6 separate regions of the Homo sapiens genome follow, and regions 2, 3, 4, 5 and 6 are each linked to region 1. The links come from fine-mapping of genetic effects on plasma protein levels. A gene starts in region 1. Each other region holds a variant in brackets. All regions are shown on one strand. Distances are between the middles of the regions.

What was found. PIP is the posterior inclusion probability: the model's chance that the variant is causal. Protein levels are from antibody-based Olink assays in UK Biobank. Linkage for the fine-mapping came from a reference panel and not from the study's own genotypes, which makes the PIPs less certain.
Region 2: its variant is fine-mapped to the plasma level of the HAVCR2 protein (UK Biobank, PIP above 0.99).
Region 3: its variant is fine-mapped to the plasma level of the HAVCR2 protein (UK Biobank, PIP 0.92).
Region 4: its variant is fine-mapped to the plasma level of the HAVCR2 protein (UK Biobank, PIP above 0.99).
Region 5: its variant is fine-mapped to the plasma level of the HAVCR2 protein (UK Biobank, PIP above 0.99).
Region 6: its variant is fine-mapped to the plasma level of the HAVCR2 protein (UK Biobank, PIP above 0.99).

Annotation. Positions count from the first base shown.
Region 1 is chr5:157,106,637-157,111,727 of GRCh38, forward strand. It overlaps HAVCR2 (hepatitis A virus cellular receptor 2), which reads right to left and starts at 2,408. Exons shown (of 7, transcript NM_032782.5): 1 at 2,290-2,408; 2 at 1-326. The coding sequence starts at 2,347. RefSeq lists an enhancer at 2,195-2,344.
Region 2 is chr5:156,158,932-156,164,022 of GRCh38, forward strand. It overlaps a transcript of SGCD not described here. Among named protein-coding and RNA genes, the nearest start is that of SGCD, 170 kb to the right of the region's middle. The variant C/A (reference allele first, on the strand shown) is at 2,963.
Region 3 is chr5:156,328,479-156,333,569 of GRCh38, forward strand. It overlaps SGCD (sarcoglycan delta), which reads left to right. Exons shown (of 9, transcript NM_000337.6): 2 at 1,056-1,101. The coding sequence starts at 1,099. The region is part of intron 2 of LOC124901120 (a long non-coding RNA gene); the gene reads right to left. Among named protein-coding and RNA genes, the nearest start is that of SGCD, 3.9 kb to the left of the region's middle. The variant A/C (reference allele first, on the strand shown) is at 1,980.
Region 4 is chr5:156,568,786-156,573,785 of GRCh38, forward strand. The region is part of intron 4 of SGCD (sarcoglycan delta); the gene reads left to right. Among named protein-coding and RNA genes, the nearest start is that of SGCD, 240 kb to the left of the region's middle. The variant C/T (reference allele first, on the strand shown) is at 2,020.
Region 5 is chr5:157,675,936-157,681,026 of GRCh38, forward strand. It overlaps C5orf52 (chromosome 5 open reading frame 52), which reads left to right. Exons shown (of 3, transcript NM_001145132.2): 3 at 3,906-4,223. The coding sequence ends at 4,064. Among named protein-coding and RNA genes, the nearest start is that of C5orf52, 6.9 kb to the left of the region's middle. The variant C/T (reference allele first, on the strand shown) is at 2,442.
Region 6 is chr5:156,119,113-156,124,203 of GRCh38, forward strand. It overlaps a transcript of SGCD not described here. Among named protein-coding and RNA genes, the nearest start is that of SGCD, 210 kb to the right of the region's middle. The variant G/C (reference allele first, on the strand shown) is at 1,999.

The DNA of each region.
Region 1 (5,091 bases):
GACCAACTTCAGGTTAAATTTTTCATCATTCATTATGCCTGGGATTTGGATCCGGCAGCAGTAGATCCCACTGTCTGCTAGAGTCACATTCTCTATGGTCAGGGACACATCTCCTTTGCGGAAATCCCCATTTAGCCAGTATCTGGATGTCCAATAATTCACATCCCTTTCATCAGTCCTGAGCACCACGTTGCCACATTCAAACACAGGACAGGCTCCTTTGCCCCAGCAGACGGGCACGAGGTTCCCTGGGGCGGCTGGGGTGTAGAAGCAGGGCAGATAGGCATTCTGACCGACCTCCGCTCTGTATTCCACTTCTGAGGACCCTGCATAGAGAGAGAAGGAGAGCCAAGACTCAAGCGGTGAGTGAGGTTACTCCATTTCAGGAAAACTGCAAGCCATGTCTTACAGAATAAAGAGGAAGCTACTGCTGCAGTCCTGTTTGGAGGATGATTCGCTGTGACAATGCTTCTCAGATGTGAAGGCCATCAGAATCACTGGGAAGCCTTGCGAAAACACAGATTGCTGGGCTCAACTGCTAGAGTTCCTGACTCAGTTGGCCTGTGGTAGAGCCTGAGAACTTTTATTTCTAACAAGTTCTCAAGTGTTGCTGAAGTGGCTGGTCTCAGAACCTCACTTTCAGAAACACTGCCCTAGGAGAGAATTGTGGCCCAATTCTGTGAACACGGGAGAACAGGGCTGATGGAAACAGACAATCAGAAAATTAGTCATGGTCAGCCAGGAAACGGCCCGCCCATCTGGGCTACTTGCTTGTTCATCAACAAAGGGAGGCTCTCCTAACATACTTCTCTTTTTAAGCAGCAAGTGCACAGTAAATACAAACCCTTGGTTAAATAAGGATCTTGTGTATTTGAAACTACTCATGGAGTTGTTTTAAGGTTTAAAGTTGTGAAAAGAAATTAAATTTTGGGACCCCAAACTCATTCAGTCAAAGGGAAAAGTCAAGCTGGGAACTGGGTCACAGAAACCTGCCTCCTCTTTTTGATTCCTGAATAAGATGGCTACAGGATGAAAGGCTGCATACCTCCCCCATATTTTGCCCACAAGGAAATTCCTGGTCAGCTGTGCAATGCAGATTGATAGCTCATCTTTACCGGTGCGGTCACCCTGGCCAGACACAAATGCGTTATCTGATTGTTTCCCTACCCCATTTTGTCTGTGTTATCTAATGTAAAATGCAGATTCCCCATATTTTTCCTCTGCCCCCCCCCCTTTTTTATGTGAAAACTGAGTGCTTCTCAATATCCCACCTTGTCCCCTTTAAATCTGGAGCCCTCAAAATCATCTTCTGAGAAAGTCATAGACCTGTCTCTCAGGTGCCTCCTTAACTTTGGCAAACAAATCTCCTAAAATGATTGAGACTTGTCTCCTCATTTTCCTCAAATGACAAAGTTAATTCCATTAAAAAAAAACTATATATATTTTATATATGATAAAACATTCATTATATATTTTCTTTTGATTTTTTATGTCCCCTTTGTTTTCATATGACTCAACTACAGTAAAAACATTCAAACACTATCAAAGGTGTATGAAAAAGTGGCCGGGCACACGGTGGGTCACGCCTGTAATCCCAGCACTTTGGGAGGCTGAGATGGGCAGATTACTTGAGGCCATGAGTTTGAGACCAGCCTGACCAACATGGTAAAACCCTGTCTCTACTAAAAATTAAAAACATTAGCTGGGTGTGGTGGTGCACGCCTGTGATCCCAGCTACTCCGGTGCCTAAGGCAGGAGAATCACTTGAACCTGGGAGGCGGAGATTGCAGTGAGCCAAAATGGTGCCACCACTGCACTCCAGCCTGGGCAATAGAGTGAGACTCCATCTCAATTGAAAAAAAGAAAAAGAAAGAAAAGAAAAAGAAAAAAAGGAAAGAAAAGAAAAGAAAAATATGCCTTACTCTCCCAACTCTTTACCATTCCCTGGTTCCTTTTCCTAGAGCTTATACATTAAGAAATGTCCACATATTCCTGCTCCCCGACAATGCACACACACAAATAGAAGCCTAATATATGCATTATTCTGCAACTTTTTTTCTTTAATAACATTATAATTTTGAGACATTCTATACCAGTATGTTTTGTCAGACTCACTGTTTGTATCATGATTATATCACATTTATTTACCCACTCCCTCATCGACGGACATTTAGGTTGCTTCCAAGCTTTTGCTATTACAAACAACATTACAATGGCCATCCTTGTATCTCTCCCTTGTCCTCTGTACAGCACCATTATGTCATTGTAAATATCCATGCCGAGACTTACTTGTAAGTAGTAGCAGCAGCAGCAGCAGGACACAGTCAAAGGGAAGATGTGAAAACATGGAGCTTGCAGAAGAAAAGTCAGAGGACACCTCTGTTAGGCACAGTTTTAACTCTCCAAATGGACTGGGTACTTCTTCCAACTGTCTACTCCACAATCACATGAGCAGTAGCCGCCCCCACTGAGTGCTAGCTCAGCACACCCGGGTGTCTGATTGCCAGTGATTCTTATAGTAACACTGCCAGGTCTACAGTCACATTAAAGGAAACCAAAGTTCTCTGTCATGCCACACTACACACATCCTGTAAGTGTTCTGATGTCTGTCCTGTGATATCAACAAAGAGGAAGCAATACTTCAGTGGAAGAAAACGCTACTCAGTCATGGCACATAAAGAGAACCCTCTAATAATGTCTCAGATGAGATACACCTGAAATGGAGCATGTCCGAGTCCATCTGACTAGCGGGGAACACAAAGTACAGATGCATCATCCATGGATTCATTCACTCAAATCAGTCCCTTCATCAGGCCTGTGACCAAAGTTTATGAAGCCCCTACTTTGCACCAGGCACTGGACTAGGAAGTGGAACACAACAGTGAATGGCATGTTCCTTATCCTCACATTTACAGACCATAGCAACTCCCAGCATAAGCCTCACTCTCATCCTTCTTCTAACACAGATTAGGTTGTATCCTATAACCTTGCTGAGTCTCAGTTTCCTCATTTATATAATTTATAAAATGAGAAAATTGTATTAGATAATACATGCATGGCTCTCTGTTCTAATATTCTGACTTTGACCTTCAAACTTCCAACTCTTCAATTTAGAAAAAACATGTTCCTTTTGGCAACAGTTCCTTTCCTCTACTCTGAGTAGAATTAAGGGGATCTTGGTATCCTGTTTCATCTCATGCATACAAGGTGCCCCCTCTCCCCTACCCCAAGAGGCTTTGGCCATGAATGATCAGAAAGTGTTGAGTTCCAGCCACACTCCCATAACTGAGGTAACAGCTTAGACTCACGTAGCCTCAGCTCTGGGAGTGTGACCTTTATCTGGACACCTTAAAAGCAAAAGCTTTTTTTTATAAAAGGGAAGTGAGCTCACAGGCTGAGTGGTTTCTGAAAAGCCAGTGGCCTTCCTCTATGTCTTGCCTTCCTGAGTTTCTTTGTCATTCACATTTATGCCATTAAATGCATTGGGTATAAATACCAAATTTGTTCAATATAAACAAATGGCATTTAATATAAATATGCAACTTGTTCAATGTGTGTACTTCCCATAGCATTGCAGAGTGGCAGTTACTCAAGAGATCATAATCAATTTCTCATTTTATTTTATTTTATTTTTATTTATTTATTTATTTTTTTGAGATGGAGTTTCGCTCTTTTTGTCCAGGCTGGAGTGCAATGGCATGATCTCGGCTCACTGCAACCTCTGCCTCCCGGGTTCAAGTGATTCTCCTGCCTCAGCCTCCTGAGTAGCTGGGATTACAGGCATGTGCCACCACCCCGGATAATTTTGTATTTTTAGTAGAGACGGGGTTTCTCCATGTTGGTCAGGCTGTTCTTGAACTCCCGACCTCAGGCGATCCACCCGCCTCGGCCTCCCAAAGTGCTGGGTTTACAGGCATAGCCACCGCGCCCGGCCAATTTCTCATTTTATAGACAAGGAATCTGAGACTTCAGAAAATTGATTTGCCGAAAGGCACATGATTGGTGATTTAGAATGAGAGCATAAGCCCCCTAAGTGACAGATTTTTTCCACTATAAATTATGTTTTATTAATTTAATGTTTGTCTTCCCACATAACTAATAACCAGCAAATGACCATATTCAAGCATAAGGTAGAATAGATTAAATATGGGGTCTGGGGTTATTTTTATTAGCAGCATGAACTTGGTCAAGGCTCTTAAAAGCATCAGCCCTCAGTTTCTGTGTTTTGTTTTGTTTTGTTTTTGTTTTTGTTTTGAGACAGAGTCTTGCTCTGTCGCCCAGGCTGGAGTGCAGTGGCGCGATCTCGGCTCACTGCAAACTCCGCCTCCTGTGTTCAAGCAATTCTCCTGTCTCAGCCTCCCAAGTAGCTGGGACTAAGAGCGCACACCACCATGCCCGGCTAATTTTTGTATTTTTAGTAGAGACAGGGTTTCACCATATTGGTCAGGCTGGTCTCGAACTTCTGACCTCAGGTGATCTACCTGCCTCGGCCTCTCAAAATGCTGGGATTACAGGCATGAGCCACCGTGCCCAGCGATGTTTTGTTTTTACCACTTTGTTTTCTGCTCATTTCTAGAATTGCTACTGAGACCAGCTTTATAAAACATTAACAATTTATTAGTTCATTAAAGTCTAGATATGAAGGGGTCTAGAGATCTCCTTTAACTCTCTTGTGTGTGTAGGGAGCTGGTTCTGAACATTTTCATGTTCACTTAACTTTTATTTCCTGTTTATTTTCTTAAAAACTTTAGATAATACATTCAAATAGTTAAAAAGTAAAAGGAATATAAAAAGCTCAAGAAGCCTTGATCCCATGATCCCATCCTTCCATGTTTACCCCCATTTCTCCCACCTATGCTATAGGTTTTCTTTTTTTTTTTTTTTTGACATAGAGTCTCGCCCTGTCACCCAGGCTGGAGTGCAGCGTCACGATCTCAGCTCACTGCAACCTGCGACTCCCAAGTTCAAGCGATTCTCCTGCCTCAGCCTCCTGAGTAGCTGAGATTATAGGCACCTGCCACCGTGCCCAGCTAATTTTTGTATTTTTAGTAGAGATGGGTTTTCACCATGTTGGTCAGGCTGATCTCGAAC
Region 2 (5,091 bases), 950 kb before region 1:
AAATACTTAGATATGAGTGATACACTTTTTCTCTTTAACCATCTTTGAAGGCAGAAGACTTATCATCATTGTTTTGAGAAGCAGCATGCTATCTTTGAAAAATAATGGGATTTGCAATTCCCATCTCATTCCTCAACTTTTATTAGCGTATGTGACCAGCACTCTGAGCCTCATTTCCACCATTATAGGAATGGTAATATCTGTCTTGGCTATTTTGCAAGATTATTTGGAAGGTCAAATGAAATAACCAAAGAGCCTTAAAAAATGTCTAGTGCTATGTGTGCAAAAATATGTGGTTGTAATTCATCAGAATATAGTCATAAGTAAAAGCTATAAACTTCCTTAAAGAACAAAATTACGTAGATTTTACTTTATGTTCTGAATATTTACTGAGTAATTGGAATAATTTAAACTTTAAAGACATGATTATTAATTTTAAATTATCTATTCTTTGAAATTAGAGTTAAGCAAATGAAAAAAATCTAGCATCTGGAAATTTGAGTCTCAGCCAGGATACATATTATCTTTCTCTGAACCACTCATAAAAAAAACAAAACAAAACAAATAAACAAACAAAAACCCTATCATACCTTTGGCTTCAGAAGAGGCTGTATTTTTTTCAGATTGTAATAACCAATTTTGGATATTTAAATACTGTTTATGAAACATTTAGTAGAATTTATTACTTCTGTTAACTACAGCTAGAATAAACATTGGATAAATAAAATTCATGAAATATAGAAAAGTATCTACAGGAAAATGAATCATTAATTTCCCAATTTCAGAGGTGATCACTGTGCATTTTTATAAATATTTACACAGATATTTTTCTTACATAATTGAAATCCATTGTAAAGTTTTTATTTAATATATTGTAAGCATTTTTCTTGTCATGAATTATTCCAACGTAATTTTAATGGCTACATGAGAATACCTTCTTTAACAAATCTTGTATTGTTAAATATGTAGATTTTTGGAAAGTGTTTTTGATTATCAAGAAAAGCTGACATATTTTTCTTAAGTCCCATGGAAGACTTGAGTTTGAAAGAAAATAGCAAATTGTGGGTTCTTAAACAAAGAAATGTGTTCTTTAGTAAATTAGCTTTCAGTTAATATTTCAGTCAGTATAATTCACGAACTGAAATCTGTCTGAAACAGTTTACACATATTTTCAAATCTTTAAGACATATTTTTCACAAGTGCTTTGCCATGAGTTGTAATAATTACATAATAAATAACACTATCTCAGAAAAGGAAATATGTCATCATCTTAAGCTACATTATTAAGAGATTATAATATGAAACTAGAAGGCAATGAAATTTATTTTTAACTAAGATATATCAGCACAAAGATCTCTTCCAGCATCAGTCTTATATATACTAATTTGAAATTCTTAAATAATTGGTCTTCCGAGTTTTTCTATTAAAAAAGCTTCACTTTCTATATTTTATTCCTGCAATTCATTTATTAAAAGTAATAATGTGAAAATGCCACAAAATCACATTTATTTAAAAATATTCTTTATAGTCTCAAGATGCGTCCAGAATCATATAAATCAACAACTGTAACAAATTAAATCTAATTATTGCTGGATTCAGTTCATATAAGAGGGTATCTCTTATTATAAGTGCTTTGTTGAGTTATATTTCCTAAGAGGAAGCATTTTTATTTTAAGATTTTGAGGAAGAAATTGCACATATATTCTTGATTTCAATATTTAGCCCTCTATAGCATTTACGCCTTTAGCCTTTGCTAACATTGTGCTTGATTTAAGTTTCTGATTTTTTTTTGCCTCTTCTTCATGTGTGCCCATCATCACGTAATAGTAGCTTATTGTTTGAAGCTACTTCACTTGATATTTTCTGTCTTTTCTTCCAACTTGTTTGTCCTATTCTTGCCTCTTCCCTTAATTTCTTCTCTTAGATTAGAGGCCAGCAAATTTTTCCTCTAAAGAGCTAGATAGTAAATATTTTAGCCTTTGTGTAGCACAAGGCCTCTGTCAGGACAAAACTTTCTCCTTATATGCAAGAGCAGCCATAGACTATACGTAAATGAATGGCTGTGGTTGAGTTCCAATAAAACTTGATTTGCAAAAATAGACAGCAGACTGGATTACCCTTATAGCCTGCTTAGATATTGGCATAATACATTTCTTTACCATGTGTCTTTTTACTTACAAGTGTCTATGGCTTTGTTTCCAGATATCTATCATAAATATTTTTGAAACTAAGGGAATCAATGCACGAACATATCAAAGATCGGGAATTTTTGTTTTATCCTGAAGATACCCTGTCGTCTATTTTACTTTTGGGAGAATGGAAAAGTTTTTATGTAGGATGGAGAACAAGAAAAGCTTTATTTTTGCTTCAAACTCTGTAGTAAACATTCACTTTTATATCACAGAGAAAATTCTCATTGACAGGTTAGTTCCTCAAATTTCATTCAACCAAACACCTTGATAATAGTAATCATAGCTCACAGTAATTAAGTGCTTACCGCTTTCCAGTCACAGGACTAAGAACTATATGTTTGCCCTTAGAGCAAATCCCAAGGGCATCGTCTGTTGTCTGTTTTATGGATGAAGAGACTGAGAGCTTCAGTAACTTGCCCAAGGGCACAAAGCTGGTGAATTGCAGAAATAAAACCAAGGCTATATATGTTGGACACCTAAACCCATGCTCTTCTATGTTAACTTCTTAGTCACTGCTTATACTTTCTAATTCTACTGTAAAACAAGAAATGAGTGATACAGAAGAGATGGGAGAACTATTATATGTTTGCAGTGTAGACATGAACATTTTCCTCATCTTTCCTTCCTACTTCCTGGATCTTCCTTAATTTTGAATCATAATTATATGTTTAAATTAAGAAGCGTGAACTTCTTAATGTTTCTGAATATAGCAACTGTTTTATTCCAAAGTCACAAAGTCAGATGTATGAAAATGTAACTCTCTTTTTCTA[C/A]AGCCTCAGTTCCATCAGCCTCCCAGTCTAGTTTTGACTGTTAAATTCAGTCACATGCAGTCATTTATTGTTAATTTCAGGTCAAACTTTTGATTTCCCCCCACTCATATTCCTTTCTGGAGTAAATTTCAAGTGCCAGGGTTCCTTACCCTAGATTCTCTAGGAAACAGAATGTGTGACAGAATTTACCTGCTAATGAGTTTGTAGTCCCAGGGTGGTGGGGGTGGGGGTGGAGTGGATAAAGAGAGGTAAGCCAAGGAAGGAAGGAAGCACAAAAAGTTAAATTACAAAACTGGCTGCAGTTTTGCAAATAAACACAGATTCCTTCCTTCCATTGGTCAATATTTTGTCTACACTTCTGAGATTTTCAAACAACCTCTCCAGGCTACTGTTGGGGAAGCTACCTCCCATGTTCAATAAGCAGTGTTGCACCTGAGTCTAGAAGGGAGGAGTCAGAGACTCTGTGTTATGAGGGTGTTAAACTTGGTAGCCAGAGACCCCTTTTGAGGTGTGTGTGATGGAGGTTGTTCTGCAGTGTGGCGTGAGGTCTTAATAGTGTGTGCAGCTCTCCATTGAGCAAGTGGTCAAGGACCAGGGAACCAGGTAGGGCTGAATAAATCAGTCAGTCTTGGATTTGACTCCCTTTTTTCTTTGGTCTCAGCTGAGATGTGCAATCATCCTCTCATGTCCTACTATGGTTTCTGAAGAGATGGTGCATTGTACTCATCACCATTCCCCCATCGTTTTGTCCTTGAGGACTATTTGAACCTCCTGTTCTCTCAACTGATGCCTTCTCCCTGCTCAGAAGATGGGAAGCTGTTTACTGTTCCCTCATGTTCCTCTAGATCTGCAGAAAGCAATTCACATGCACATCAAAACACTGGCTTAGGGCACAGCTAAAACATTCTGCCTCCTGAATTACATGTAGGGTATGAACCATAATTCCCCTTGACTCTAAAATCCTTAACTTGAATGGGTTCTATAATAGCCCACACACTAACCCTGGGGGATGAGGCAAGGCAGCCATTTATCTTCATGTCATCTAATCATCTTGGTGTTTATCTAACTTCCCTCCTTCTCCTCCAGCTAACAGGCTTGCTTTTCTCTGCTTGCCTGGTGGGTATTGGGATGGCAATGTAGCCCAGCTTCTCTCTACATCTTTTCTTTCTTAAGGTGCATTGCAGAGACTTTTAAATTCAATAGCCAAACATTTCACTATTGTTTTTTCTCCTTTCTCTCATTGATCCATGATAAACTTTCTTCCATTTGGAAAATGCTGGATTCCACTTTCCCAAATGAGGGATTATAAGAAAATACTAAAGTACTAAGGATTGAGGAAGATACTAAATAGTTAAGATATTCATATCAACTCACCACTTGTGTATGCAAATGGAGGAGTGAGACATGTAGGAGTGAGAGTCAAGTTTTGAGGAACCCTGTCAGAGTCCATGTTTCCGTAGGAGCCCATCAGAGCCATGGAGGAATCTACTAGCTTGGCATGACTCTGATGTACTTTGTCTCAAAGTCCGTTAACAGACACCACCATTAACCACACATAATTTCCTCATAGAGGGAGGCATAGTCAGTCCTCAGCTGTGCTTACTGTGCTTTCTCCACCTAGTAAACCAGACCTGTTTGACCTGAAACTTTACATGGTGCTAGATAATGGCTTCTTTTATTTCTTTTCTGTCCTGAGGTAGTACATTCCACTGACTCCTTATGCTGAAATTTACTCCATTACCTCAAAGCTATGACCAGGCATCACTCAACAGGCACTCAGAAATGACACGAACTGATTTCTGGTTTTGGAATCTACCAATATTATTATCAAAAGAAATCATTTTCGGCCGGGCGCGGTGGCTCACGCCTGTAATCCCAGCACTTTGGGAGGCCGAGGCGGGTGGATCACAAGGTCAGGAGATCGAGACCATCCTGGCTAACATGATGAAACCCCGTCTCTACTAAAAAAAATACAAAAAATTAGCCAGGCGTGGTGGCACGCGCCTGTAGTCCCAGCTACTCGGGAGGCTGAGGCAGGAGAATGGTGTGAACCCAGGAGGTGGAGCTTGCAGTGAGCCGAGATCATGCCACTGCACTCCAGCCTGGGCGACAGAGCGAGACTCTGTCTC
Region 3 (5,091 bases), 780 kb before region 1:
GTCCTACAATCTTTAAACAAGTAGCTAATAGAAGAGCCTGAAGTTAATGCTGAAAGAAAAGTGGAGAGCCAGCATTTCTCATTGCTTCCTCTGCATAAGACCTAGAATGAGAAGGCACACATTCTGTCCTGTTGGTAGAAGGTCAGGATTTTCAGCCAGCGATTTTCTTTTTTCTTCCAAGTGTTGTACTTGGAGGAGGGACCTGGGACAGGACTGGCAGCAGGATATCTTTAAGAGATGGTTCATGAACATTTTCTTTATTAGTTTCATCTTCGTGTTGGGGTGGTGTGGGGAGGGTTTGGGGACTGCAGGGCTTGAGGAAAGGAAGGGGGTGTAGTTAGAAGTCAGGATGGACTGTGACCTTATTTTTTTCTCTAAAGTGCCTAATGAGTGAGAAAAATGCCAAGACAGATTAGGAACTGGCATGAACCGTAGTCAAGCCCACTGCCAATGAAAAAGGGAGCCTTCCATGAGCTCGGGTGTCATACTCCTCTATATTTAGCGTGCGTCAAGCATTGAGCAGAAGAGGCGTGAAATAGCAACTCCAGGTTGCAGGATTATAAAGAGCAGTGCTTGAAACTTGGTAGAAACTCTATAGTTTCTCTCTTTTTTAGAAGTAAAGTAGGGAGAAGTCAAGCTCTCTTGACATCTGAAGAGAAAAAGTAAGCAGCGGAAGGGGGAAGGATACAGAGGAAGAAATCCAGGACAGAGGTGGAGGCAGTGAAGGGAGAGGAATGGCCACAACACAAACTGGGCAGTGAGGGTGGAGGGAGGAGCCCTTGGCACAGGAATGAAACACATGTATTAGAAATAGCCAAAGCCACCAGGCACTGATTTGTTGGACTGGAGGTGTGCAGATACTCAGTGGCCTTGGTGAAGAGAATTGTTTTAGCCACTTCACCACAGGAGACTGCATGGTCAGCCTGCCCTGCCTTCTGGAAGTAATCAGAAAGCACATTTTGTAAGAATGGCATTGCCTGAGGGTTCAGATTTCCTAGGCAAGGAGGGGGCAGGCTCTTCAGACCTTATTTTTAACCCATATTTGTTCCTTGCAGAGACATTACTGCCGGGAGTGTTGAGTGAAGGGACCAGGTGGAGATGGTGAGTAATTCCCGGGAGCGAAGCTTGTTCAAGGCCCTGCTCATGGTCATTTTATTATTAACATAAACTTTTGAAAAAGAGAACAAAGTGTTATATATGCCTTATCCTGATGAAGACATTTCTTTAATTTTACTTTTTTATTTTAAAAAATCTGCAGGCCAGGCACGGTGGCTCACGCCTGTAATCCCAGCACTTTGGGAGGCCGAGGCAGGTGGATCACGAGGTCAGGAGATGGAGACCATCCTGGCTAACACGGTGAAATCCCATCTATACTAAAAATACCAAAAATTAGCCGGACATGGTGGTGGGCGCCCGTAGTCCCAGCTACTCGGGAGGCTGATGCAGGAGAATGGCGTGAACCCGGAAGGTGGAGCTTGCAGTGAGCCAAGATGGCGCCACTGCACTCCAGCCTGGGCGACAGAGCAAGATTCAGTCTCAAAAAAAAAAAAAAAAAAAAAAAATCTCCAAGGGCACATACTACATCGTTGGTTGTACATGTGTTGAGCTTCCCAAATCCAAAAATCTGAACTCTGAAATGTTTCAAAATTTGAAACTTTTTGAGCACTGACATGATGCTCAAAGGAATTATTTATTGGAACGTTTCTGATTTCGGATTTTCAGATTTGGAATGCTGAATGGTAAGTATAATGCAAATATTCCAAAAATCCAAAAAAATCTGAAGTCAGAAACACTTCTGGTTTCAAGCATCTTGGATAGTTTCCTAAGCCACGTCTGACGAACGTGCTGGTACTGGGGGCAGAAGTGGGGTTGAGAGAGGGAGGAAAGGTAGAGGTGGTCAGAAATCTTAGGTCAGGTCCTGGCTCCATTCATCTTCAGATCTCAGGTTTCCTATCTGTAAGATGATCTGATACCTCTGA[A/C]TTGTTTTCTGTTTTCACAACCTATGATTTTTGTAATCCTGAGGCTCTTCCTTTTCTTTAAGAATAACTCTTAGTCTGTCTCCCTTAAGGCTGGGTGTCTTGAGTCATTTCACCCATTTCTCCATCTTTTCCTGCACTCTTTCTTTACTCTTCTTTGAACATATTTCAGTGAGCCTTCTCCTGACAAAAACTATGGCTCCTTGAGCTCAACTTAGTCATCTGAACAATGCACATTCCATGGTGAGGACTTCATACATGTGTTAACCGAAAAGGAAGAGGGTGATTGTAGGGAGAGGAAGCACAGCAAGAAAGAAAAAAATGGAAGGTGGTATCATCTTGCTGTGGAAGAAAAGTGGTTATATTGTGAACTGAGCTCAGGGTCTGCCTCAAACGAAGACTGGGGTCCTGGCTGTGTGGCCATAGGCAAGTTACATCATCTCCAAAATGTGTCCCAATTTCCTAATCTCTAAAATGGACAAGACAAAAGTATCTGCCTAATAGTGTGTTGTGAGATTGTACAGATAATGCACTTAGCATTGTCTTTTGCACACAGTAAGCACTTAAATATGTCAAATATATTAATACATATAGTTAAGATGAACTGAGATAGCACCAGGCAAATCAACAAAGAGTGAAAAAGGTAGAGCAAGGTAAAACAAAGAGTTCAAACAATCAGCAAAGGAAAGGATGTTTTACTCTGAATTATCTGGGTTACTTTTCCTGTGTTGCCCAAATTTCTCTAGAAATTCCACATTTCCCTTTGTTTCACTTTTCTTGCCACACAGAAAGGTCTTCATTATTGTTTCAAATTCCTATTGCAGAGTGTGAACTGCCTCATACAAAGGAAACCATGTAAGCTGTAGCCTCTGACCTGCCTCTCAGACAGGTCTGTAGGACTGGGGAGGAACATGTCACCGTGGTTCACTTAGTATATAAATCCTGTGAGATTGGTTTGCTCAGAAAGCTTTGTTGGTGGTTGTATTAATGGAGCTCAGGATGTGTAGGAGGATATGGATGCAATCACTTTATTCTTCTTTTTCACTGATAAAGCAATGGCACCTATTAGAGCAAGCACAATTCCCTGATAAAAACTATATTGCCAGGGATTAGAAACTCCCTCCTTGCTCAGACCACTTTTCCTTGCCAGAGTGATAGGATCAGACTGTCTTGTGAGCACCTTGACTTCCAAATAATATATTGTGAATGCCTGGAAACCCTGCTGTTACTTGCTGGAGTTGACATATTCAGCCACTGAAACTATTCATTGAGTTCAGAGTAAATAAATACCAGGGTAAGCTCCTCTCTCCGAACGAATCATTCGACAAAATCTTGTACTAACCCTCATTGGGGTTGTGATATTGGCACTGTGTATTCAATGAAAGAAAATTGTTCCAGGATAAGGACAGCGGGGAACAGAGCCACGCTGTGTTCCTTTCATTCCTATCGTTACCTATGGTTGACTTCTCTCCTCTCTCTTATTCTATAATCTTTCTAGCCCTTTCGCTCTTTCTTTATTGGGTTCCATTCACCCTTGCAAGTTTCTTTTCTCTTTGTTATTTGTTCAGTGTGTGCTTACCAAAGTCCTTATCTGCTTCCCTCAGGGGTCAGGAATATTGGTAATAGGCCAGTGTCTGGACAGCATAATTTTTACCAGGTAGTGAGAAAGATTAACTCCTAGCATTGGCTGAGACCTTCAAAAGTTTGCGTCCCCACCCCTCTGATGTTACCAGGCTGCTGATACAAACAGCAGGTCATAAACCGGCAACCCAAAGGCTTGGACTATAGGTACATTTTGGTTCACAAAGTGTTTTTTTGTTTGTTTGTTTTAATTGACTTATGAAATATTTAAACATCTTAAGATATCATAATGTTGATCTTCTAGAAAAAGCTGAAGATGGGCATTCCCTATGTAATTTCTTGGGCACAGTGGCTGGTGGCCTGTGGTCAGCTCCTGTCCTTTTGAGAGGGCATATGCCTACCTCATTCATTGACCCCGCTATCTGACCTGTACATGTTTACATTTGTCTGCTCTATTTTTCTAGAGTTTCTCAACTGAACCAAAGAAAGCAGACGGTTATTTGAGTGACCATGTTCTCTGTTCTCTCAAGGGTGGTGCATATTCTAGACACATAGGAGAGAAGTTAGGGCATAATTAAGTTGTGGCTTCATTCTCTCAGAGAACACTGTTGAGATGGTCTAAGTCTCTGTTGAGCAGAGTCGCAGGAGGACAGTATGGTGGCCAAGAATCCAGACCTCAAAATTAGAACCACCTCATCGGATTATAGCTAAGACTGAAAACATTAAATGTGATAGATATCAGAATACTCACAATCTCTGGGGAAGGGAATTGATTAAGAGGAGTAATAAGAGAATTTTCTCGGGTGATAGAAATGTTCCCTCTCCTGTTTGAATATTGTTCCCAAAGATGTTCAGATTTGTAAAACTCATTGGGCTATGTAGCTAATATCTGTTTGTTTTACTAGAAGTAAATTATTCCTCAATAGATGTACATACATATATACATATCTACATGAAAGCATGCAAAGTGCTTAGAAAAATGCATGCTGTTTAGCTATTTTTATCATACTTGTTTCTAGAAACTTTGATTTAAAAAATATGTAAAATGACCAAAAACGAGATGAGCATTTCCTTTCCTACCACAGGTTTCATTGCAAGCATTTGAGAGCGCAGGTAATAGCTAAAGATTCTTGCCAAACACAATTGTCAAGGGAGAATCTACTGGATCAATTCTAATTTTATGAAACTATTGAATCACTATAGAAGGATGTGCCTAATTTGTTGTAGCTGCTTTTCATGATGCTGTAAAAATTTATAGGTTTTAGAGACATATCAAAGATGGTTTATTACCTGGGACAAAATGCCTATACTTAGAGTAACTTTCACTCTGGCTGGAATACAGTAGTCACTCAATAGGTATTCAATAATATGTCTTAAAATTAATATCCATATTAAGAACTTCTAGCTAATACAATCACAAAAATATTGTTTTTATTAGTAATCACATTGTTATAATCAATTATTCACATATATCTAGAAGCATTTAATATAAGAAATGAGAGAACAGGTTTTCCAGCCAAACACTCTGGATTCA
Region 4 (5,000 bases), 540 kb before region 1:
AGGGAAATGCATTAATGAACCACATTTGTTTCAGTTTCTCACAGTTCATTGAACTACGCATTGCTAATGAGGAACAACAGAGTGAACATATTATGTAATATCACTGATCATATCACGTACTGTAATAGAATACCATGAAATCATTATTATGTATGTACACCAATATTACAGAATTCATGGCCATACAGTAGTCACCATCTTGGTTTTCACCTTTTTCAATATCTTTCTTTAAAGTGTAGGGTCTGGATCTGAACATTGTATTCCAGATGTGCTCTTACTGTAGTGGGTAAAGCAGGACCATCCTCCCCTCTTCTAGGTACCACAGTCTAAAAGCTTTCTGGCAGTCAGCGAACTCAGCGAACTCATATTGGCTTTGATATTTATTCATGTGAAAAATATTTTTGTACCCACCATGTACGAGACACTTGTATGCACTGGGGATGCATGGGTAAACAAAAGAAAGTCCCTGCCTCATTGATCTTTTATTATACTAGGAGGAGACAGACAAAAAAAAATAGACAATCAGCCGGGCATGGTAGCACACGCCTGTAATCCCAGCACTTTGGGAGGCCGAGGCAGGCGGATCACCTGAGGTGAGGAGTTCAAGACCAGCCTGGCCAACATGGTGAAACCCTGTCTCTACTAAAAATACAAAAATTAGCCAGGCATGGTGGCATGCACCTGTATTCCCAACTACTCAGGAGACTGAGGCAGGAGAATCGCTTGAACTTCGGAGGCAGAGGTTGCAGTGAGCCAAGATCGCCCCACTGCACTCCAGCCTGGGCGACAGAGTGCATATTGATTTTTTGAGACCCTGTCTCAAAAAAAAAAAAAATAGACAATCAGACTTATAATAAAATTCTAAGCCATGCTAAGTGAAATGTGGAAAGAGAGAGCAAGAGTAAGAGGATGGAGAGTAAAGAGGCTACTGTGTTAGGCAAGGAGGTCAAGGCAACCAGGTGGATATGGAGGACAGAGGGAGGCACTTCCAGGCACAGAGAAAAAGAAGTACAAATTCCTGTAGGCAGGAAGGTATGTGGATTGTTTGAAGAACAGAAAGAGGCCAATCCTGCTGGAGTAGTAATAATATGGAGAAACCCAGTAAGAAAGAAAAATATTGAGGAGGTAGTAGCAGACCGGATCATGTAGGATCTTGTAGTTAGGAGTTTGAATTTAAGCCTAGCTGTGACAAAAAGCCATTGAAGGATTTTTTTCCCCCATGAGAGTGACATAATCTGTGTTGAATTTGAAAAGGATTACCTGACTGCTCTGAGGATAATAGAATTTAGGAGGGCAAGAGTAGAAGCAGGAAAATCAATATGGACTAAAACAGCTATGTTTACATTTCCAAGATATGTTCATTTTTAATTATCTTTTTAATTTGATTTATAATTTAATGGCACTAAAGTCAGAAAATGTATTCTGTGTGGCACTGTTGTTTGGCATTTCTTTGTGAACTAGGACATTATTTTTGCAAATGGTTTAGTATAATTGAAAATAACGTAGATTCTCAATTTCTTGGGTGCAGAGCTCTACACATCCATTAGTTCAAACTAGTTAAATATGAGCATTCAGGGTGTCCACATTCTTGCTATTATTTGGTCAGCAGAATCTATCATTTTCTAATAGATTTTTGTTAAAATTTAATGCTAGCATTTGCTAAATTTCCTTCATACTTCTGACAACTTTTAATTAATGTGTTTTAAGCTACATTGATAGATACATACCTAGTCATGATTTATAGCTTCCAGTCATATTTTGTTGTTTTTATATGCAGTCTCTGTGGAGTACATGAATGCTTTTTGCCTTAAATACTGTTTTGTCTAATACTAATTTTGATACCCAGCTTTCTTTTTAACTTTTAAGTTCAGGGGTACATGCACAGCATGTGCAGATTTGTTACATAGGTAAATGTATGTCATGAGGGTTTATTGTACAGGTTATTTCATCACCCAGGTATTAAACCTATTAATAGTATCCATGAGTTATCTTTCCTGATCCTTTCCTTCCTCCCACCCT[C/T]CACCCTCTGATAGGCCCCAGTGGGTGGTGTTCCCCAGCTTTCTCTTAGTAAGACTTTGCCTAGGGTGTCTTTTGCCATATCTTTATTTCTAGCCTTTCTATATTGTTTTGCTTTAAATATCTCTTTTATAAGTAGTATTTACTTGCAATTTTGTACATGTTATGGATATTTTCTATTCCTACTATCTTGGTTTGTATTTCTTCTCTACCATTCTCTTTCTTTTCATCTTTTTTGTTTTTTGTTTCATTTTGTTTTTGTTGAGACAGAGCCTTGCTCTGTCGCCCAGCCTGGAGTGCAGTGGCTCAATCTCAGCTCACTGCCACTCTGCCTCCAGGGTTCAAGTGATTCTCCTGCCACAGCCTCCTGAGTAGCTGGGATTACAGGTGTGTGCTATCGCACCCAGCTAATTATTGTATTTTTAGTAGAGATGGGGTTTCATGATGTTGGCCAGGCTGGTCTTTAACTCCTGACCTCAAGTGATCCGCCTGCCTGGGCCTCCCAAAGTGCTGGGATGACAGGATGTGAGCCACTGTGCCTGGCCCTTCTTTTCTCCTTTTTAAACATATTTTTTTTGGTCTTTCTTTCTGGCAGTTTCTTTTTTATTCCCTCTCTTTATGTTCTACTGGCTTATTAAGTATTTATATTCTCTCTCTTAGATATGATATAGGGATCAGTCTGCTTTAACTGTCCAGTAACCTCTATAGCACCCTTTCCTCTCTCTCCCCCTGAATGTATAAACCTTGCAGCAGTGAGCTTCACTGCTGTCTCATCTCTTTGAGAACTCTTAAGGTCCCCTCTAATTCACTTGAGCTAAGCACACAATCACAGTCTCCGTGGCCTGCTTCTAGATCCTTATGCCAGCAAGCCTTTGGCTACAGCCTTCATGGTAGTTAGTATTTCTGCTTCTGGTCCACAAAGATGATAATCCCCCAAAACTGTTTTACTGTGGTAAAATACACATGATATAAAATTTACCATGTTAACTGAAGTGTATAATTCAGTGGCATCGAGTACATTTATAATGTTGCACAACCATCACCATCATCTAGTTCCATGATGCTTTTTATTACCCCAAACAGAAACGCCATATCCATTCAGCAATCACTTTTATCTCTTTCTCCAGCTCCTGGCAACTGCTAATCTACTTTCTTGTGGAATTGCCTACTCTGGATATTTCAGATAAATAGTATCATATAGTATGTGGCTTTTGTGTATAGTTCCTTTGACTTAGTGTAATGTTTGCAAGGTTCATCCATGCTGTAGCATGTATCATACCTCATTTTTGCAGGGGAATAATATTCCACAGTATGGATATATCACATTTTGCTTATTCATTAATCTATTATTGGGCATTTGTATTGTTTCCGCCCTTTGATTATTATGAATAGTGCTACTATGAGCATTTGTGTACAAGTTTTTGTTTGAATATCTGTTTCCAATTCTTTCTGGTATATACTTAGGAGTAGAGTTGCTGAGTAATATGGGAATTCCACGCTTAACTTATTGAGGAACTGACAAGCTGTTTTTCATAGCAGTCGCACCCTTTTACATTCCCACCAGCAGTGTATGAGGGTTCCAGTTTCTCTACATTCTTGCCAATATATGTTATTTTCTGTTTTTTTTCTATTATAATTATTCTAGTGGGTGTGAAGAATTACCCAATTTTTAGCCTCATTTTAACTTACCGGGTTTCCATTTGTTGTTGTTGTTGTTAGCCTAACATTGCTGTGGGCTTGGAGCAAAAGAGTCAATCAAAACATGACCTGATCTCTCCAACCTGAAGTCTTTTATCAATTCTGGCCATATTTCTTAAGTAGACAATTGAATGAAGCACCCATAAGCCAAAGTATCTGATCATATAGCCATTACTTTTCAAAGAGTGTGAAAGGAGATATTCTCTTTGTGGGACAGATAGACACATACTAATTGAAGCAATCAAAGGTTGCTTCAAAAAATTTCCTCTTTTGACATCACCCCTTTCCAACCAAACTAATATAATGTAGACATTAGCTAGTTAAGTGAGGAGAGTGGAGAATATATGTGCTTTTCCTGTGAGAATTGACCTTCCTCAAAGGATTAGTGACGACTACAAAATCACTCCTCTTGTCTCTCTTTTGACCTGTCCACAAAATTAGAAATTTTGACCAGCCAAGAAAGAAATTTAGGGTACACAAAAATAATTAAGAAATGTACATATTACCTGTATTTTTCAATGCTTCTTCAATAATGGTCATGTTTTTATGAATATTTTTGTATTTTATATTAATGATATTTATGATTATGAACATATTGTTTATTCATGACTTTTTATGATCATAAAAACAATACATGGTCATTTCTTTTCCCAATAAAAAAATTGGAAGCACATACTGTACTTCTTAAGAGCTTTACAGACTCAGCAGTCTTAGAGTATGAAGGTCTCAGCCTTGGATTTGGATAATGAGCCTGGGATCCAGGTCAGGTTCTGCATGACCTGAAGATTACTGCTTAACTTTTCTGTAAATCTGAGAATCACGTGGACACAAAGTTGCAACTACTTTGCCTCCGGTCATGAAATATTTTGTTTGAATACCCTCATTTTTGCCTGCCCTTCATGACTGCCCCACCCAGGTGAACCTGATTTAGGACCCCACATGGACTTAGTGTTTCATGTCCTAACTTTAATCAGCAGTTACTTAGCCTTTCTCCATTCTCCCCAAGCCTAGTTCTCTATGGCAGCTGGTGAAATTCATCCCTCCTCTCAGACTGGAAGGCTCACAGGTAAAGAACAGCATTGACTATGGAACCGTCAGACACCTTTTTGGTCAAGGTGCCTTCTTATGCATCCTGAATCATACCAGAGAGTCAGCTAGATACACATTCTATGAAGGGATCTCTTCTTGTTATTTTTTATTAATTTTTTTAGAGATGGGGGGTCTCACTCTATCACCCAGTCTGGAGTACAGTGGCCTGACCATAGCTCACTGTAACCTCAAACTCC
Region 5 (5,091 bases), 570 kb after region 1:
TTCATTAAACCTGTCCTTAGGGCCTGCTTGGGACAGGTACTGTGTTGGGCGCTAGGAAGAGACAAGTGAACAAGATGGACTCCAGAAACACACTCATTCTTTCAAGCAGAGCAGGGTGCCCAGGGTTGAGCTGCTGCCACCTTCTTTTCTTTTTTGAGACAGAATTTCATTCCTGTTGTCCAGGCTGGAGTGCAGTGGCGCTATCTCAACTCACTGCAACCTCTACCTCCCGGGTTAAGCAATTCTCCTGCCTCACCCTCCCAAGTAGCTGGAATTACAGGCATGCACCACTACGCCCGTCTAATTTTTGTTTTATTAGTAGAGACGGGGTTTCACCATGTTGGCCAGGCTGGTCTCAAACTCCTGACCTCAGGTGATCCACCCACCTCAGACTCCCAAAGTGCTGGGATTACAGGAGTGAGCCACCACGCACAGCTGCTGCCTGCTTCTTGACTCTTTTGAGCTTCCTTCCATGTTCCAGGGTCAAGTCTGGATGGGCCCACAAAATTCTAACATTAAAAACAATTGGAGATCCTTAAGAGATGGTGCCAGATCCTCTTGAAGGTCACAAACACCAAAAGAAGAGTAGGGACCCGGGCATTTCTCTTTCTGCTACACTTCCATGGGTGTGGTGTAGTGGAAATAGATGGGCAAGCCAGCTTTGTGTGACCCTGTGTGAATTACACTTCCTCCAGACTCTGCTTTCTCATTTGTAAAATAGGATCTATTAAGATCCTCTCAGTTGCAGGTAACATAAACTGAACTTGAACTAGTTCGAGCAAGATAGAGAAGTTGGGTTTACATAATCAAGGATGGATAGGGCAGAGTCGCCAATGTTTTTGGGGAAAGTAGCCAGGGGCTGTACTACCACCAGGTATGTCTTCCATTCTCTCTCATCATCTTTGTATCCCCTTTTTTTAATTTCCTTTTTTTTTCTTTTTTTTTTTTTTTGAGACAGGGTCTCACTCTTTTGCTCAGGCTGGAGGGCAGTGGCATGATCACAGCTTGCTGTAGCCTCAACCTCCTGAGTTCAAGCAATCCTCCCACCTCAGCCTCCCAGGTTGCTAGGATTACAGGCACGTGCCATCATGCGCAGCTAATGTTTTGCACTTTTAATAGAAACGGGGTTTCACCATATTGCCCAGGCTGGCCTCAAACTCCTGGGCTCAAGTGATCTGCCCATCTCTGCTTCCCAAAGTGCTGGCATTATAGGCATGTTCCACCATGCCCAGCCCTTTGTGGCTTTCTGTATTTAGTAGGTAGAGGCCAGGGACACTGCTGAATATCCCGCAGTGTATGGGACAGCCCTCCACCACACACTGCCTAGCTCAAAATGTCAGTAGTGTCAAGGTTGAGAAACCCTGATTGGTAAGAGTCATGCTCAAGGTAAAATCACTAGTTGAGAGAGGCCAAAAAGCCTACTGTCATGGGGTGTACTAGAAAATGGTGGTAAGCCAGGGTGGTGGCTCACGCACTTTGGAAGGCCGAGGCGGGCGGATCACCTGAGGTTGGGAGTTCGAGACCAGCCTGACCAACACGGAGAAACCCCTCTCTACTAAAAATAGAAAACTAGCCAGGTGTGGTGGCACATGCCTGTAATCCCAGCTACTTGGGAGGCTGAGGCAGGAGAATTGCTTGAACCCTGGAGGCCGAGGTTGCGATGAGCCAATATCGCATAATTGCACTCCAGTCTGGGCAACAAGAGTGAAACTCCCTCTCAAAAAAAAAAAAAAAGAAAAGAAAAGAAAAGAAAATGGTGGTAATAAGGTTGGGCACAGTGGCTCACACCTGTAAGCCCAGCACTTTGGGAGGCTGAGGCAGGTGCCTCACTTGAGGTCGGGAGTTTGAGACCAGCCTGGCCAACATGGTGAAACCCTGTCTCTACTAAAAATACAAAAATTAACCTGGTGTGGTGGCTCAAGCCTGTAATCTCAGATACTTGGAAGGCTGAGGCACAAGAATCGCTTGAACCCAAGATGTGGAGGTTGCAGTTAACCAAGATTGTGCCACTGCACTCTCCCTAGCCTGGGCAATAGAGTGAGACCCTGTCTCAAAAAAAAAAGAAAAAAAGAAAATGGTGGTAATAGCAGCGACTTGGTAATGGGGCTGGATCAGAATAATCTCAGGTGCATGACAAAAGTGGAGATTGCTGGCCCCCATCCAAACCCTATTAAGCAAGAATCCTTGGGGCCTACGTTTCTATCAAGCAACTGAAATGCTTCTGATGCTCAGCCAGGTTTGGAGAACACGGACTTGAACTATGACATTTAGTGCCCACCCTCCCTCTTTAATTCCTCATGTCAAGTAATCATGTCAATATTGACTGGCCTTTATGAAGAAGTCCTTTGCTTAACCTTGTGCTAGGTCTTCAGATAATGTTAGTGCTTATCAGAATCCCCTGGAGGGCTTGTTAAAAAACGTACATTCCCAGGATCACCACC[C/T]ACCACATTGTTTCTACATGCCCCAAACCCTCCCATCCTTCAAAACCTAGCCTCAGTTTATATGCTAACTTCTCTGGGTAGCTTTTCTTTTCTTTTCTGAGACAGAGTCTCGCTCTGTCACCCAGGCTGAAGTGCAGTGGCATAATCTCGGCTCAATGCAACCTCTGCCTCCTGGGTTCAAGCGATTCTTGTGCCTTAGCCTCCTGAGTAGCTGGGATTACAGGCACATGCCACCACACCCAGCTAGGTTTTTTTTGTATTTTGAGTAGAGATGGGGTTTCCCCATGTTGGCCAGGCTGATCTCAAACTCCTGGCCTCAAGTGAGCCACCTGCCTTGGCCCCCCAAAGTGCTGGGATTACAGATGTGAGCCACAGCGCCCAGCCAAGTGAAATTTGTCGTGATATCTCCCTTCCTTGAACTCTGTGCTTCTTTTGGAAGTGGATCACTTTCTCTCTTAGAAATATTTGGGCATGTGGGCCGGGCACGGTGGTTCATGCCTGTAATCTCAGCACTTTGGGAGGCCGAAGCGGGTGGATCACGAGGTCAGGAGATCGAGACCATCCTGGCTAACATGGTGAAACCCCGTCTCTACTAAAAATACAAAAAATTAGCCAGGTGTGGTGGCGGGCGCATGTAGTCCCAGCTACTCGGGAGGCTGAGGCAGGAGAATGGTGTGAACCCAGGAGGCAGAGCTTGCAGTGAGCTGAGATCGCGCCACTGCACTCCAGCCTGGGTGACAGTGCGAGACTCCATCTCAAAAAAGAAAAAAAAAAAGAAATATTTGGGCATGTGTCTTACATCCTGACTACATTGGAGTTACTGTGAAGACCTGTGGCAGTTTTTCTTAGTATCCTCTCCTGTAGCTAGCTCATTGGAGTAAATGCATAAGACATAGGATGTTGGCTTCCCACACCTTACCGCCTTTTGGGGGACAGGACAGAAGTTATACAATAGAAGAAATAAGTAGAATTCAGTGTGAGACAGAGTCTCACTCTGTTGTCCAGGCTATAGTGCTGTGGTGCGGTCTCGGCTTACTGCAGCCTCCACCTCCTGGGTTCAAGCAACTCTTCTGCCTCAGCCTCCCGAGTAGCTGGGATTACAGGTGCCTACCACCATGCTTGGCTAATCTTTGTATTTTCAGCGGAGACAGGGTTTCACCTTGTTGGCCAGGCTGCTCTCAAACTCCTGACTTCAAGTGATCCACCCTCCTTGGCCTCCCAGAGTGTTGGGATTACAGGTGTGAGCCACTGCGCCAGTCCTTGGAGTTATCTAGCTTAATGCATGCTTTTTACAAATAGAGAAATAGGCTCTCTGTGAGTCAAAGTATATGGAATGTACATAGGGTCCAGCTGACACTTTTCCCACTCCCCCATCAGTAGCACAGATGTCTGCCCTGCTGCGAAGTAATCCTAATCTCACCTCTTTAGGATCTTGATCCTAACCTCACCTCTGTTTTTTGTAAGGTGAGCGCTTTAGAGAAGACCAAGAAAAAGATCAGCCACTACTATGAACACCTGAAAAAAAAGTTCATGACAGAGCAGCTCAGAAAGCTCGGGCGATGGAGAGAGGAATCCGTGAACAGCAACCGGTACTTAACCTTCGGGATACCACCACCAGTTTAAACTCCAGTCTCCCAAGAAAGGCCAACCACCCTAGTTCTGGCAAAGGGATCTGCCCCAGGGTCACGATGACACCAGTGTGACCCGAGGAGAACTAGTAACTACAACCTACACAACTGTAGAACAATAAACAGAAACCAGCAGACAGCGGAGCATAATAAATCCTCAGCAATCCTCATATTCCTTGCCCATGCATCCCCTCTATTTGGTGAAGGAGGTCCTGATAGTCTCGTAGATGCTCAACTCAAAAAGGTGGGATCAAGCTAGCTTCCATGCTTAAGGCAAAGATTGACCTCTCGGTGCCCACATGTCTGAGGTGACATGCCGGGCCAAGTGTGCTGGGACAATGGTACCTTAGATGGAAGGCCTCAGTAATGCCACTGCCTGGCATTCCAGTGGTAAGGAGGTCAGGGGGAGGCATCAGAAGGACCTGGCTTAAGTGCTATTTCTACCACCAGTCAGTCTTGTGACCTTGTCACCTCCTTGGACCTCCATTTCCTTATCTGAAAGAATGTGGTAGTAGTAAGGGAACCTACCTCCAAGGTCTAGCATGAGGATGTAAAGTGCTGAGCCCAGGGCTCATCATTTCCAGTGGTTCTCACCATGATGGCTCCAGTAGCCTTCCAGTGGTCCCCACTCCCTGTTCTGCCTGCTCTCCAGACTACACCTGGATAGTCCCCACACTGTAGCTTTATTTGCGAAGATCCTTCATCTGGAATGTCCCTTTAGCTCTCTCTTCATCCTTCAAGGCTTATCTGTATGTCATTTCCTACATGGCATTTTTTTCTTTTTCTTTTTCTTTTTTTTTTTTTTTTGAGATGGAGTCTCACTCTATCGCCTAGGCTGGAGTGCAGTGGCGCAATCTCGGCTCACTGCAACCTCCGCCTTCCAGGTTCGAGTGATTTTCGTGCCTCAGCTTCCTGAGTAGCTAGGATTAAAGGCATGCGCCTCCACACCTGGCTAACTTTTGTATTTTTAGTAGAGAAGGGTTTTCGCCATGTTGGCCAGGCTGATCTCGAACTCCTGACCT
Region 6 (5,091 bases), 990 kb before region 1:
GGAAATGTACCTTCTTCTATTTGTGTGCCTTTACTATTCTCAGCAGAGACTGAGCTGGGCCAGTTTTCAGTTAGACTATTAGGAGACTGAGATATTCCTTTGGATTTTAAGTTGTGTCATTTCTGAGTGTCAGAACTAGGTTTAATCAGAAATAAAACCTAGGAAAGAAGCAATGGTGATTTTCAGCATGTTTGCTGAATGTCAATATGCTCCAGGGTCAGTTCTGAGTTTGAATCCCGACTTGTCACTTCCTAGTTATGTGATTTCAATCAGATTACTTAATGTCTCCAAACTCAATTTCCTTCTATGCAAATAGAGTAATACACATATTGGGAAGCATTGTTGGCAACAGGAATGCTGTGTGTAGGTGTGTATACCTATATGGTATCTCCACGATCACACTTCTTAAGAGGTAAATCTTTACAGCAATGCTTCTTTAATTCCCAGTAGGACCCAAATCTGTTGGCATAGTTTTAAATTTAAATTCGTCATTAGATACATTTGGATCCATAGTTCATCCTTTCCCCCAGCACACTTCTGCTCAAAAATCTTAAGACCCACTTAGAGTTGCTAATACCTTCTGCTGCTCCCACTCTCCCTGGTTTTGCCTTCTCGGGATGCCCACCTCTCTTGGGAGTCTGTCTTGGTGCCAGGGTATCTGTGAAACCCGTGTCTGTGTGTGCTTTATGCTCACAGGAATCATTTTTAACACAACCTAACCATTAGAGAGGTGTGGTTCACACTCTGCCATCAGAGCAACCACTAATTGATACCTTTTGAAAAATGACAGATTCCCTGAAGCGTTCAAGGCCGCCTGACAGGCAGAGATGCCACCTACCTCTATGATTAGCACTCTCCCATGCAGACACTGGTGATTTAAGACATATGTTGTTCTTTCTTGACATTATTTTCTTTCACATTATTCCTAGTATATACTTTCTCATTTTATTTTACCATATAATAGCATTAATCCCTTTATTATTTCCAAGGATTTCGAAAAAGCTAATTTCTGAAGCTGTGCCCTCTGGACCTAGTGTCCTTTACTGTGCCATGTGGCATCTTGTTAATGGGTAGTGGAATTTGGTGAATACTTTTTTGTTTCTTTGTTGAAGGAGGGAAATAAAGCAGAAAGAGGTGTGTAGGGGTGGGAGGTGAGGAGCAAAGTAAGGAAATGAGTGTTGTTCCCAAGAAAACCAAGAATTATAGAATTGTCTCTCTCTATCAAGCAGAAATTGAGATATTTATGTCAGCACACGCTATATCACTACTTGAGATAATCAACAAATTTGTAGGAATTTGTCATGTCTACTCATATCTGGGCAACGTTAGGAAATTACAAAAGATAAAGAAAAACTGCTAGAACAAAGGCTTAATGAAGGTAGGAATAAAGTCACTATTATCCTCTACCATATCCCCAGTCTTTAACAAAGTGCATGGCAAAGATTATATATTTCATAAACATTTGCTTTGTAAATGTGCTTTGGATCATGTCCTTGGATGACTTAGAATGGATTGTAAGTACCTTTTCTCTGAAGCATTGTAACTATTTATTAGGTTGGGATGTAACTAAACCTGAAAGGTAGGTGACATATTTTTATGTCATTACTACCTGAACATAGACAGTTTCTTAATATCAGTTAAGAAAAGAAGAAAGAAAGATGCATTTGGATAGACTTGAGACTAGAATTATCAAAGCAGTCAGCACAATTTCTTTAATAACTCCATCTATCATTGTGCTGAATTACAGCATTGTTTGCTTCCAATGTTGTGTCTCTTGGCTTCAGAATGCAGGAATAATTGTAGACTGTGCCTTGACATTCCAGAACCGAGGCCAAGATCATCCTCAAATTGCCGGGTACGAGAAAGCAGACAATAAATGAATCAGAAAACATGACTTTCTCATGTTACAATGTTCCGCCATCTGCCCAGGAATGTGGGGGCAGCTGGGGTAGCTGCATACAACTGATCCTGGAGATGGTCCAGACAAAGTTGCCCAAA[G/C]TCATTAAGGGCTACAAAAGCAATGTCATATGATAAAAGATGGAAAGATTCAGAATCCAGTGGGAACTAAGATGAAGGTAGATACATTTATGAAATGTCATGCAGAATATAAGCCTGCAGCAGTAAAAACTTTAAAAATAAAGAACAGTAAAAGTTTATTGAGCACTAACATTATGTACAGTAATGAATGATTTACCTATGACTTCATTTCTTTTGCATAAACATCCTAGAGGGATAGGTATTTTCATCATCTCTCTTTTATAGAAAAGAAATATGATACTTAGAGAAGTTGATTATCTTGGCCAGGGTTCCACAGTGGTGGAACCGGAACCTGAACCGCAGTAGTAAACCCCAAAGCCTAGTTCTTAAACATTGCACCATATTTCCTAACCACTTTTAGACTACTGAGGATAAGGGAGCCTTTTATCAGTTAAAAAAAGAAAATGATCATTTTTGGGAGCTGAAGATCTTCAAAGGTATTTATGTTACCGCAATGAGGGGTAACAAAATAAAAATGAGGGGTACCCCAGGGAAAGGAAGGGACAACCCTAAAGGCAAATGACAAATTGGTGACCAAATTAGATTTAGATCTAAAGTCCTTTGATGACTGCCCAATACCTTTTCCCTAAATGCATCTCTTCCCTTTTTTGTTGTCTAACCCTGGATTCCTTTACTTCATACTTTTTATAGTAAAGCAGGGGCTGAGAGTTGAGGGAATGACAAGAAATAATGGCATGGAAGCAAAGGCAGAAAATCTGAAAACAGCATGATGAAAGTAACAATGAGATTTCAGTATTAGCCTGTAAGCAGAGTCATCCCAATACATGCCACACATACTCTTTAGAGTATCTCCTAGAAATAGTTTTGGGGCTTTTGTTTGCTAGCTTCCCAAATACAACTAACATTCATCTTTTGCATCACACTCCAGACTATACAAATCCTTTTCCTAAGCCCAACACTAGAAGACATTCATCTAGTCAGTATTCCATAGTTGTCAAAAATACTGGAGATGGAATGCTTTTGGTTCAAACCAGGCTCAGCCACTTATCATCTGAGTGGCCATGAGGTTTACTTAACCTTACTGTCTGCTTATTCATTCATTCAAAAAATATTTATCGAGCTCCACTTCTGTGCAAGGCTATCAGTGAAGTGAAGTGCTGGAGACACAGCAGAATACCCGAGATAGAATTTCTTGCATGCATGGAGTTTACATTTTATTGGGGGATGACAGATAATAAACAGGTAGACATGTAATACATCAAAAAGACTTTTAAATCTAGAGAAAGAGGGATGAGATATGTGGTATGAGTTTACAATTTTAAACAGGGTAATTTTACAAGGGTCCTCACTGGAAAGGTAACATTTGAGCAAAGACGTGAAACAGTGAGGAGAAAAGTTTCCCAGGTAGAGGGAATGATGAGTTCAAAGGCTCCTAATAGAATCAGAGGTGTGTTAGAGGAGCAGCATGGCTAGAGAGGAATAAATGAGGGGGAAAAGAGTGGAAGATGAGGACGGTGGTAAGAGAGATGCATCAAATATCAAGCAGGATCTTTATGGCCATTGCAACAACTTTAACTTTGAGTCTGAGTGAGGTGGAAGGTTTTGAGCAGGGGAGTGTCATTCTCTTACATGGGTCTGGTGGAGAGTACCAGCCCTAGTCTGAGAGAGCCTGCTGTGCAACCTTGTAGATCTTTAATGATGTCTTGCACCAGCATGGTAGTAAAAGATGTGGTAAAAAAAAAAAAAAAAAAAAAAAAAAAAAAAAAAAAAAAAAGGTCAGCTGCTGGATTTATTCTGAAGATAGTGCCACCAGAATGTGCTGATGAAATGGACAATGTGAGGTATATAGGCAAGACAGGAATCAAGGTTTACTTGGAGGGTTTAGGCCTGACCAACTGGGTGAATAAAATTGCCATTGACTGAGAAGGCATAAACTTAGAAGAAGGAGGGCTTTAGTATTTTCCAGGTGGAAGCTGGTGGTGCTGATGACTAAGTCATGACCTCAGTTGGGTCATCTTATATCTGACATGCCCAAGTAGAGTTGTTGAAGAGTCAGTTGATTGAGTTTAGAGTTCGGGGAAATATCTGGGCCTGGAGACAAATCTCAGAGTTGTCAGAGTATAAATGGTATCTCAAGCTGTGGACCTGGAAGATGTACCTGGTGAGAAAGTGTGTATAGAGAAGAGGCTCAGGACTGAGCCCTAAGATCTCCTTATGTTGGAAATTGGGAGGTTGAAAAGATGCAATAGAGGTAGCCAAGATGGAGTGGCCAGTGGTCGCAGTAAGATTGGTACCTTAGAAGTCAAGAGAGGGAGGTATTTCAAGGTGGAGTGATGCACGGTCTCCTTGTCTTGCTTTGATGATAGACCAGTGTTAAACACATTGTTTTTGTATACTAAAGATTTGCTTGACACACGGATTGAACTGTGCCACAGACAATGAATTATCATGGAAAATCGCTTTTGCTCTCCCATCCTCAGTTTCCCTGTAAGTTAAATGAGCAAATTTGATTTGTTAAGTCCTAAAATACCTTCCAGCCTTGATATACTATGAAATTTTTTTTTGGTATGATTCTTTAATTCAGTCAAGACTGAATCCATTCAGGGATTCTGCAATTTTATGACAAACAGAATCTAAAGTATCTTTTGTTTAGTCTCTCCAAACCAAATGGCCTTTAATTTAATATCACTCTGTCTTGTTTTTGTTTTTCTTTATGGACATTGTCTTTCTCTGTTGATTTTGTAGACTTGGAAGAAACCTCCATCCTCAGGGATTTGAAGAAGGTTATACTGGAACCTGTGTGAAGGCTGAGACAACCGTCCCTTTTGTGGTGGCCTGAGGGGATTTTCTTAATCCCAATGTTGCCCTGAAATTTATGTCCAGGATTCAAAAAGTTTAGGACTGCTAAGGTATGAGTTTGTGACTTTATTATTTTCTAAGACAAATGTGAACATTTAAAGATATTTATCCATATTTGCAGCCTTTCTCCTCCCCCTTTCCCTGACCTTCTTCTCTTTACTTTGTCTCTTAAAGGAAAGATCTTTTCTATCTTGAAAAGATACCATCACTTATGGGATGTGTTACCACAGGTAA